2 separate regions of the Homo sapiens genome follow, and region 1 is linked to region 2. A link means that fine-mapping ties the variant in region 2 to the expression of a gene that starts in the linked region. Tissue or cell type: pancreas. Region 2 holds a variant in brackets; the other region holds the start of a gene. All regions are shown on one strand. Distances are between the middles of the regions.

Region 1 (5,288 bases), 190 kb before region 2:
GTAGCAGGTCAGCATCAGAGTTCAGAGATCAGGAACATGGCAACATGCCCAGAACCAAGATGAAAAGAAAAGCCAATAGGCCCCATTTCATGAATATTTGCCTTGAGGAGTCCCTGAAGATGTCCCTAGAAGTTAACTTCTGTTTTTATGTGGAGACAATTAGAAGCTAAGTTTCAGATTCCCCAATGCCTGCGTAAGTAGCTCTAATTACTTAGCAGAGCATTGTATGTTTCCCCCCTTCAAACCACCTGACACAAAAATGAAGTAAAACAGGTTCTATATTTATAGATATAACTAAGCCACACAATAGGATTGTGGGGTTTAGACCAAATCATCTAGGTCACATCAGGGTTATAAAGATTAAATGATATGTTTCACACAAGAACTATTCTGCTTAGGGATGGAGGCTTGTTGCTAATTAGCATAATTGCCTCGTGACTTGCGGAAACTATGTCAGCGTTTTGTTTTGTTTTTGTGTGCTTTTTCAGAGGGAGACTCATCTGGTGGTGTTAAATACTATATCTATTTAAAATTAATCACATGCCTTTCCTAACAACACGGATCATGCTAGTTGCATCTATCTTTACAACAGGGATTTCTGAAGCAAATGAGAGGTGTCATTATGTAATGGAATTAAAAGAGAAGATTAGGAGTTAGGCTGGCTGGGTTTGCACTTGCCCTCACTGGCTGTGTGACCTTGCGCTAGTCACTTGACCTTTCTGAGCTTCAATTCCTCATTTGAATAATGGAGATAATCTGACCTATATACCCCTGGGTTTTGTAGTCAGGAAATAATGGATCATTGTACATATGAAAAGTCTTTACAACTATCAATGGCAAGACATCTGTCAGTTATTCTAATATTCATGGTATAGAAAACTGTGAAATACAGAGTCCTTACGTCTATTCTCCAAAAAAGTTCACTTCTCTTTAAAAGCTTTTAGCAAACCACAATCCAGGTAATTAAAAAGGAAATATTAAAATTTTGTTCTCAGGTTGTCTGACATTTCACGGTTCAGCAATGTGACATCTCTCACAGGCAGAATAGCATCTTCGGACAAGTTTTCTATTAAAAATATGCTTTATAGAAGAAAATATTTTACGGACCTAGAAGACAGCTGTCGATGAAATTTGCTCAGTTTAGCAAACAGCAAGGACTGTGTTTGTGTTTAGAGAAAAGTAGGTCGAGCCTAGTTTATCTCCCTGGGGTTCTAGACTCCTTTCCACGTTGTATCTCAAGCTCTAATAGCTGGAAAGCTACTTTCTTTAACCTTTAATACACACTTGCTAGTAAACTTGCTAGAAGCATGAAGATAATACAGACTGCGAATCAGCCCTTCTAAGAGACAATCACGACTCCTTCCTTGCAAGCTTCCGCCCTGATAATTCTGCAACCTTCCCACCTTCTATACGCCCCGCGGTGCGAGGCCCCTCGGCCTGCAGGTGGCCAGAGGCAAGCAGGAGTCAGATCCCCCACCTACCGCGGCCCGGCCTGGGCCCTAGCGCTGGGTGCGGCGGAGCCCCGGGCTCCTGCGGGGACGAGCGTGGTCCCGGGACGCGCGGTGCAGCCAGGTGCGCCGGCGGCAGTGGCAGCCGCTGAGCGCCGCGTCGCACGTGGCAACAGGTGCAGCGCTGTCCCGGGCTGGCGCCGGGGGGCGTGGGGCGCGTCCGCACTTAGTCCGGGAGCGCGCGGAGCGTCGGGATTGGGACCCGAGAGCGGGAGCGGAGAGCGGGAGCGCCCGAGCGGAGTCCAGCGCCCCGAGGTACGGCCTCGCACGTCATTCAGGTTCCCCGAGGGCCGTCCCCTGGGACGGCGGCTGGCCTTGGTCTCCCGCAGCGAGCCGCTGGAGTGGAGCCTTCGGAAGGAGCCGCCCCGGGTTGGGGCGGGAGGCCCGAGTTCGGCTATTTACAAGTTTCCCGAACTCCCCGCCCTGCTCCACCCCCTGGCGGCCCCGGAGGCGGGGAGGCGGGGAGGCCGGGGCTCCGGGTCCCGCCTGGTAGCCGCCGCAGGCGTGGGGTGGTGCCGCGCCGCGCGCCCCCAGGTGCAGACGCCGCCCCCGAGACCTCCGGGGCGGGTTCTCGGCGACCCCGCCAGTGGTGCAAAGGGCGCCAGCCCTCCCCGCCTCTGCGTCTTTGCTCCCGGAGCGCTTGAAGGAGCTGCGGGTAAGTGCGCGCTGGAATCTGTTCCCGCTGCCCGGCGGCCGGGGTGGGGAGGGGACAGGCGAGCGCGCCGCCCAGGGTGACGGGACCGGTCCTCGGGGAGGGGAGGGGGCGTTCCAGGGGCCTGGGGGCCGAAGCTGAGGGCTAAAGGGGGCGGCAGCGCCGGCGGAGCGGAGGCGGGTCTCACGTGGGCCAGCGCAGAGCCTGCGGAAGGGACGGATGCGGATCTCGTCGCTGTCACCTTGAAAGTGACCGAGGGGCTTGACTGTGGACTCCTTACGCCGCCCACCCGGGCCCGGCGGTCCCAGCCTTCTCGCAGGGCCCCTTCTCAGCAGAAGCAAGCGGGGCCGAGAAAGCGGGTGGAATAGGGTTGCTGCAGGTCCCAAAGACCCCTCGTGGCGCCTCGCTACTTTCTGCAGCTTGTTTGCACTTTTTCACGCTCTAGAAAAATCTCATCTTAATTAAGGTGACCTTATTGACTACTCTATAGTGCTTAGTGGACTTAGGTGTTCACTGAGGAACGTTTTTGTTCTTTTTTGAAGACGTACTCCTTTCTACCAAGTTGTTTGTTGATTTTTGACTTGGAGTAATTTGGGACTAGGAAGGAAGAGGTTAATTCATTTAGCCTGCGTAGTTACACATACTCTGTTAAATACTGTTTGTTTGAAGTAGTCAGTGTTCTAAGAAAGGAAATCCAGTGTGTTTTGTTTGTTTCAATGAAACCAAAGTCTTAGGCAAAACGGTGCGTGGAAGCTTTCAAGTTTTGCCAGGTGCAGGTGATCGAAAGTCAATCATCACTAAATCACAGCGCTGGGGCTGGAGGGTGGGAGTAGGGGTGTTACCAGTGAATTTCAGGAGGAAGGGAGGCAATGCAGGAGGGAGGGGATTAAAAAAGAGAGTCATTGCTTCCTGGGAACCAGTGACCTCTTTAAGGAGGGTATATACAAGATAACAGTGCATGGACAACTTTAAAAGGAATTGCATAAACGGAATTGCAATTCTGTAGACAGTTTGCTTTTTCAGGGATGGTTAGGGCAGGAAATGATACACAACTTAAAATGGTGATGTCCTGTTAGTACAGTGCTTTACAGTGTAGAAAGTGCTGTTACAGATTTTTTTTTTTTCATAGGCAATATATTCCATTAGGAAAGCTATACAAAGAAAAGATTAGAACTACATGCTTATCCTTAAAACCAAAGCTAAAAAACCTTAGAAGTGGAATTTAGTTTAAAATAATATGTAGTTATTTATGTAACTTGCACCACGTTTTTTCACCTGTTCTTTTTAAAATCAGGTTTATGAAGAGAAAATAATTCTTGGTAAATCTGCTTGGTAGAAAATCATGCTTGGAACAAGACCTTTTAATTATGTCAATAAGTCAAGGTTACATTTTGGAGTATAATAGGATTATAAGATTCTAGATAATATCTTATATTTTTTGGAAACTAACCTGCAGTTATTACACTCAAGCATTTAAAAAGCCTGTTACTTAATAGCCCTGTTCTGTTAACCCTGTTTGTTTTGATTTCAAAAGTAATCCGTGCTTGCTGTATAAAAATAGGTAGATTGAGAAAAGTGAGTTAAGCAATTTCAGCAAAGATAATCACAGTTAATATTTAAGAAAATACTTGTTAATATATAGAAAAATTTTTTATAGTTATATAGTTTATCTAAATATACTATTGCGTGGAGGTTTTTTCCTGATTAATGTATCATGAAAAATTTTCCATGTCATGAAATCTTCAGAAATCTTAGTGGCTACTTAATATTACATTACATAGATGTATCAAACTGGTTTTCATTTATTTCCACTTACTAAATATACTTTTGCAACAAATACGTTTTTAAAACTTTATGTGCAGGGTTAATATCCTTAGTGCCCTTGAAATACAGTTGATGGTTGGAAGATCTCCTCATACATATTGACCATTTGCTTTCCAAAAAATGTTTAACCAAATTATGTTCCCACCAGCTCTCTGTGAGAATACTGGTGTTACCGTATTCTTGTCAACATGTAGAATCATCCTTAAAGGGAAAAAAAAAAAATTCTTCCCAGGTTTATAGGTGAACAGTGCTTTCTCTATATTTAAACTTCAATTTCTTTGATTACAGATGATTTGAACACCAAAGAAATCTAGTTGTTTTCCATTTTGAAATTTGATGTAGTGCCAGATTTTTCTCCTGGGATATTAGTATTTTTCCATTAATTCATAAGAGCCTTTTATGGATTGATAGTAAATCTTTGCCATTCATATTGCAGATACTTTTCCCATTTTATCTTTGCTTTATATATTTACAGTAGTTTTGACATACACAAATTTCTTTAATGTTGATAAATCTGTTGACTTTCTCAAAACAGAATTTTTAACACTTCTAAATCGTAGCTTCAGAACTATATGTGACTGTGGTAGAAGATTTAAAAAAAATTTTCCAGCCGGGTGCGGTGGCTCACGCCTCTAATCCCAGCACTTTGGGAAGCCAAGGCGGGCGGATCAGGAGGTCAGGGGTTCGAGACCAGCCTGGGCAACATGGTGAAACCCCGTCTCTACTAAAGATACAAAAAATTAGTCAATTGTGTTGGCATGGATCTGTAATCTCAGCTACTTGGGACGCTGAGGCAGGAGAAGCGCTTGAACCCGGGAGGTGGAGGTTGCAGTGAGCCGAGATCACTCCAGTGCACTCCAGCCTGGGCAACAGGGCAAAACTCCATCTTAAAAAAAAAAAATTCCCCAAATTCTAAATTAGAATCTTTTCAAATTCATTGCAAGAACTTCCATATCTTGGGTTAGAGACTGTTGCAAAACTAATTGCATTTGTTGATGAGAAGCCACTGGGCCTGGTATATACTATTAGGAACAACATCCTTTGAAATCAGAGCAGAAAGTTTTAAATCCCTAAGACTGAATGTTTTTCAGATCTGTTATTCTGTGATTATACAAAGTAGGCTCACACTCCATTTATTGTCAGTAATCTATTTGTAGTATCATTTTGCCAGATTCTTCTTTTTATAGTCATTATTGTGGTTTCATACGGACTTGTTGATGTCCAGACAAATGTACTGCATACGTAGTTAAAAAATTTCCTGGATTAATTTCCAATACTGCTACTCAGCAAAGTATTTATTTGGG
Region 2 (5,288 bases):
CTAGGAGTTCTAGCCCTGACCCACAGAGATCTCAGTGATGGCCAAGTCCATGTTTCAAAGTGAAAGTGTTCAAATTTTAAGACCCCGTGTATGTGTATGTGTGTGCATGGCTTCCAACACGCTCCCCTGGCCTTAACACACACAGAGTCTTGCTCCCATCAGTGGAGGACTGAAGCTTCCTGTATTTAGCCCAGGCTGCTCTCTCCTGGGGGTGGCCTAAGTCATGAGATGGCACAGAGGAGGGAGCTGACAGTCCTCAGATATAGGGACCGGTGCATCTTACTTGGGGCAGTGGCCAGTTAATAGTAGTGGGGTCCATTTCCTGTCTGCCCCGGTGAAGACTCTGCAAGCCAAGGGCAAGGGTGAGCCTTGGGTTACAAGATAATGATTCATTGGTATTATACCCACACATACTTAGTAAGTACAAAATAAATGGGAGGTGCTGGAGAGGACAGGAGGGATGCAATGATGTCTAGAGAAGTCCCTGCTCCCGAGTTCTCCTACACAACATGCCATGAGAACTCCGAGGAGAGTAACCAGCAAGAGCCTCTAGGCCAAGAGGGTCTTGGTACAAAGGAAGGATGTCAACATGCGCAAATCGAGGGCATGCAGTCCCAGGGAAGGAGGTCTCCAGAGAGAAGAAAAAAGGCAAGTTTGTGCAGAACAAAGCGATGTTATTCTGGACGACAAGTTGGCTGAAGACTGTGGTGAAAGGCATAAAATCATGAACTTGGGCCAGGCGCAAGTGGTTCATGCCTGTAATCCCAGCATTTTGGGAGGCCGAGGTGGGTGGATCACGACGTCAAGAGATCGAGACCATCCTGGCCAACATGGTGAAACCGCATCTCTATTGAAAATACAAAAATTAGCTGGGCGCGGTGGTGCATGCCTGTAGTCCCAGCTACTGGGGAGGCTGACGCAGGACAATCGCTTGAACCCGGGAGGCGGAGGTTGCAGTGAGCTGAGATTGCGGCACTGCACTCCGGCCTGGTGACAGAGCAAGGCTCCCTCTCAGAAATAAATAAATAAATAAATAAATAAATAAATAAATAAATAATAACAATAATAAAATAAAATCATGGACTTTGGAACCCTACTGACCAGATTCAAATCCCAGCTCCACCATGACCTTCAGAGTCCTTAGCTACAGCTCGTCTTCCACAGTCTGGCTTCACCTACTCTTCAGACTTGTAGTAACAATAATGATAGCTAATGCTTGTTGAGTGCAGGCACGCTGCCAAGCTCCGTAAACAAGTTCAGGACTTAGAACAGCATCTGCCACAGAGAAGTGCTCAATACATCTTGTTTATTCGTTTAGAGATAGGGTCTCGCTCTCTTGCCCAGGCTTTGAGTACAGTGGTGCAATCATAGCTCACTACAGCCTCAAACTCCTAGGCTTAAGGGATCCTCCCACCTTGGCCTCCTGAGTAGCTGGCATGTGCCACCACATCCGGCTAATTTTTTTACATTTTTTTGTAGAGACAGGGTCTTGCTGCGTCGCCCAGGCTAGTCTTGAATTCCTGGCCTCAAGCAATCTCCCACCACAGCCTCCCCAAGTGCTGGGATTACAGGCATGAGCCACCACACCCAGACTCGAAACACTTTAGAAATTGTCATTATTATGGTCCCCCTGGTTCTCACAGCTACATTAAGTTGGAGGTACTATTTTTCCCCTTTTACTGCTTGAGGGCACCGAAACATAGAGAAGCAACTTGTCCAAGTTACTCAGCTATTGAGTGGCAGAGCATCTAATCTAGTGTCACACAGACTCAGGTTACAAACACTTATAAATTAAGAGGGCATGGATTTTCATCCTACAGAAATGAAATGAAATGAAGCAATTTTGACTGAGTGATGGCACCTCTAACAGCTTGTAAAATCTGCTAAGTATAGCTATGCACACACACACACTCCCAAATCACAAACAAAAATATGAGAGATCCAGTTAAATGAGCTCAGAATTTTAAATTCCATAGTAGAAACGGTACACTGTTTTCTATTAAGTCAACACTAAACCATCCGGTAATTAATTAAAGGAAACAAGAATGGGACACCCATCAGTTATTAAGCATCGACTTCATAACTGGCAATACGGAAGAGACACTTTACTTTTTCTCAATCCCGTGAGATGGCAATGATGAGACTTATAACAATAACTGAAACTTAAGCAGTGTTTAATATGTGCTAAGCAATGCTGTAAGCCCTTTACCCATTTTGACTCATTTGATCCTCATGAAGCCCTGAGAGATAAGTGCTATTATTAACCCCACGTGGCAGGTGAACAAACAGGCTGGAGAGGTTAGGTAACTTTCCCAAGGCTACACAGGAAGTGTTGGAGCTGCCAGAGAAGAATTTGAAGCTCAGTTCAAACAACTTTCCCAGGGTGCCTCAGGTAGATAAACAAAGATTTTCTGCTTTGAACGCTCTGTGCTGCCTCTGTTGGAAAAAGAGAGACCCCCATCTCTACAAAAATGTTAAAAATTAGCTGGATGTCACGATGCCAGCCTATAGTCCCAGCTACTTGGGAGGCTGAGGTGGGATGATCACTTGAGCCTGGGAGCTGGAGGCTGCAGTGACCTAGGATTGTGCCACTACACTCCAGCCTGGGCAACAGAGGGAGACCTTGTCTCTAAACAAGTTTACAAAATTAAAACATAAATATCCTCCTTATTCTACATTCATGTGAAAAACTGTTAGGCCTCTACCACATGCAAGGAACTGTGCCAAGAATCAAGAGCGATAAAGACTCGTGGGTATTTGCTTGTCTGTGTTTCAAGTGTTTACACAGGGCCTGTATTTCCTGTAAGTCTCCGTCTCAGAACGTGTCAGAGAAGAATGGCTGAATGATATGCAGGAAACGTGCCATATGAACAGAGTACAGATCCTGGGAAACAGAC[A/G]GCTGGGTAAAACATACTGAAACTGTCACTGTTTATGTTTCTTTAAAAAAGAAAGAAAAAATATGCATGATGATCTCAGGGAAACAAATATGCAAACTAAAGGACTTCAAAGTGAATATAGTTCTTGTATCAGAAATTAGGCTGGAATAGCTCTATTCCTCTATCATCTATCAATCTATCTATTACGAATCAATCTATCATTTATCAGCCTATCATCTACTGATCTATCATCTATCAATCTATCATCTGTCAATCTGTCTGTTGCCCATCTACTATCTATCTATCATCTATCTCCACATTTGCATACTATCCAAGGAACTATTCAAAATCCTTGCAATGTGATACAATATTTCCACCTCAACAACCAGTTACGTTGTGAAATGTGGCTCAGGTCTCTCTACTGCAATCACTTATGCCAGATTCCTCTGTATTATTATCTTATTATTATTTTTAAGGTAGCTTTTCTTTTTTGAGATGGGGTCTCACTCTGTTACCCAGGCTGGAGGGCAGTGGTGTGACCTCCGTGGGGTTCACACCATCCTCCCACCTCAGCCTTCTGAGTAGCTTGGACTACAAGTGCACACTACCATGCCTGGCTAATTTTAGCATTTTTCTGTAGAGACAGGGGCTTCCTACGTTGCCCAGGCTGGCATCGAACTCCTGAGCTTGAGCAATCCACCTGCCTCGGCCTCCCAAAGTGCTGGGATTACAGGCATGAGCCACTGCGCCTGGGCTTCTCTGGATTATTGAAAAAGAAGTCACCCTAAGCACTTCCCCACTACTTCACGGGAGACTGCACACGCTACATCCCTCCAGCCCTGCCGGCATCACTCTCACCCCTGCAGGTCCTATTCTTGGCACTGCCTGGACTCTGCCCGCCATACTGCGAAGTCCCCCTTCCCTTTTCATTTCCCCTCTGTCACCTGCTGGGGTCATCATTCTTTTTGACCCTCTGTCCAGCATATCCAGGTCCTTTACAAAGGAAAAGCTCCTCTTCCTCCTTCAGATATTCTCTAGACTCTGAGAAAATGAGAAGCGTATATCCCCTTGACACCACAAACCAAAACCATACCTGACACACCAGCGATCCTCCCAACAGAAAATCCCCTCCAACCACCTGGAACAAAGGCCTTAAAATACGCCCAACAATTCCACCCAGAGGAAGAGATCCTTGCTACCTAGATGTTAGCTACCGCAATGACAGTGATCGTAAAAAATGGGGCATGATCTAAGAGATGGAGAGACCCAAGAGATTTAGCTAAACCTACTACAGTATTACAGCCATAACTCACAAAAAATATTCATGGTAGATTAGGTGCAAAGTTAATCATGAAAGAGTTTGAATATTTTGATAATTTTACACATAAAAATATTCACAATAGATTACGGGAAAAGTTAATCATAAAAGAGATAGAATATTTTGATAACTTTACACATAAAAAATATTCACAACAGATTAGGGGGAAAGTTAGTCATTAAAGAGTTTGCAGATTTTGATACCTTTTTTATACTAAATACAAAACTAGAAGATTCAACATTACTGTGTTAACCACGTTTCTTGGGGTTTTCAGTGATCTTTCTCCTTTTTGCTTATTTATAGTTTTTAAGTTTCTAGATCAAATAAGTATGTGTTATTTTATAATAAGAAAAGAAAAACTGGGCCAGGTGTGGTGGCTCACATCTGTAATCCCAGCACTTTGGGAGGCCGAGGTAGGTGGATCACCTGAGGTCAGGAGTTTGAGACCAGCCTGGCCAATATGGTGAAACCACATATCTACTAAAAATGCAAAAATTACCCGGGTATGGTGGCAGGTGCTTGTAATCTCAGCTACTCAGAAGGCTGAGGCAGGAGAATAGCTTGAACCCGGGAGGCAGAGGTGCAGTGAGCTGAGATCATGCCACTGCACTATGGCCTGGGCAACAGAGTGAGACACTGTCTCAAAAAAAGAAAAGAGAGGAGAAGAGAGGAGAAGGAAGAAGGAAGAGGGAAGAGAGAAAAGAAAAGAAAAGCTATAATAAAAGCAAAACAAGTAAAACTGCTTATAAAGTGTGAAACAGATACTGCATAAATGCGTAAGCACAAGGGCTCATGTGTATTTAAATACCTGGAGGTTAGTTTTACAAAGTGTTGCCTTTTTAAAATGTGAATTTCCAACAGGCAGGGCCACCAAGAATTCCTTTAGAGGCCTAAAACTACTGTGTATTATTTTGTTCTGATTAATGGAAACACTGCCAACTGGAGTATAACACATCATTTGGAGTGCAGCATGGCTGTTTCTTAGCCATTCTGCTCCCCTGCCTGTGTGGACCTGCCGAGGCTGTGCCACCTCCCCTGGAGTTTAACCCAGGCTCCCAGATCTTAGCAAGCCTTCCTTCTTACTTGGTTCCCAC

Direction of the effects. Alleles are on the strand shown, and positions count from the first base shown. SD is a standard deviation of normalised expression in the study named.
As copies of G replace A in region 2, the expression in pancreas of the gene that starts at base 2,130 in region 1 goes down (small effect, 0.32 SD a copy in GTEx).

The links. PIP is the estimated chance that this variant, and not a neighbour inherited with it, causes the effect.
Region 1: MTUS1 starts here. The variant in region 2 is fine-mapped to the expression of MTUS1 in pancreas (GTEx, PIP above 0.99).

The regions. Positions count from the first base shown.
Region 1 is chr8:17,797,936-17,803,223 of GRCh38, reverse strand. It overlaps MTUS1 (microtubule associated scaffold protein 1), which reads left to right and starts at 2,130. Exons shown (of 15, transcript NM_001363059.2): 1 at 2,130-2,163. It overlaps MTUS1-DT (MTUS1 divergent transcript), which reads right to left and starts at 1,882. Exons shown (of 3, transcript NR_186403.1): 1 at 1,482-1,882. RefSeq lists silencers at 1,527-1,716, 1,757-1,816, 1,897-2,016.
Region 2 is chr8:17,611,939-17,617,226 of GRCh38, reverse strand. All of the region lies in intron 2 of PDGFRL (platelet derived growth factor receptor like), which reads right to left. Among named protein-coding and RNA genes, the nearest start is that of PDGFRL, 37 kb to the right of the region's middle. The variant A/G (reference allele first, on the strand shown) is at 2,898.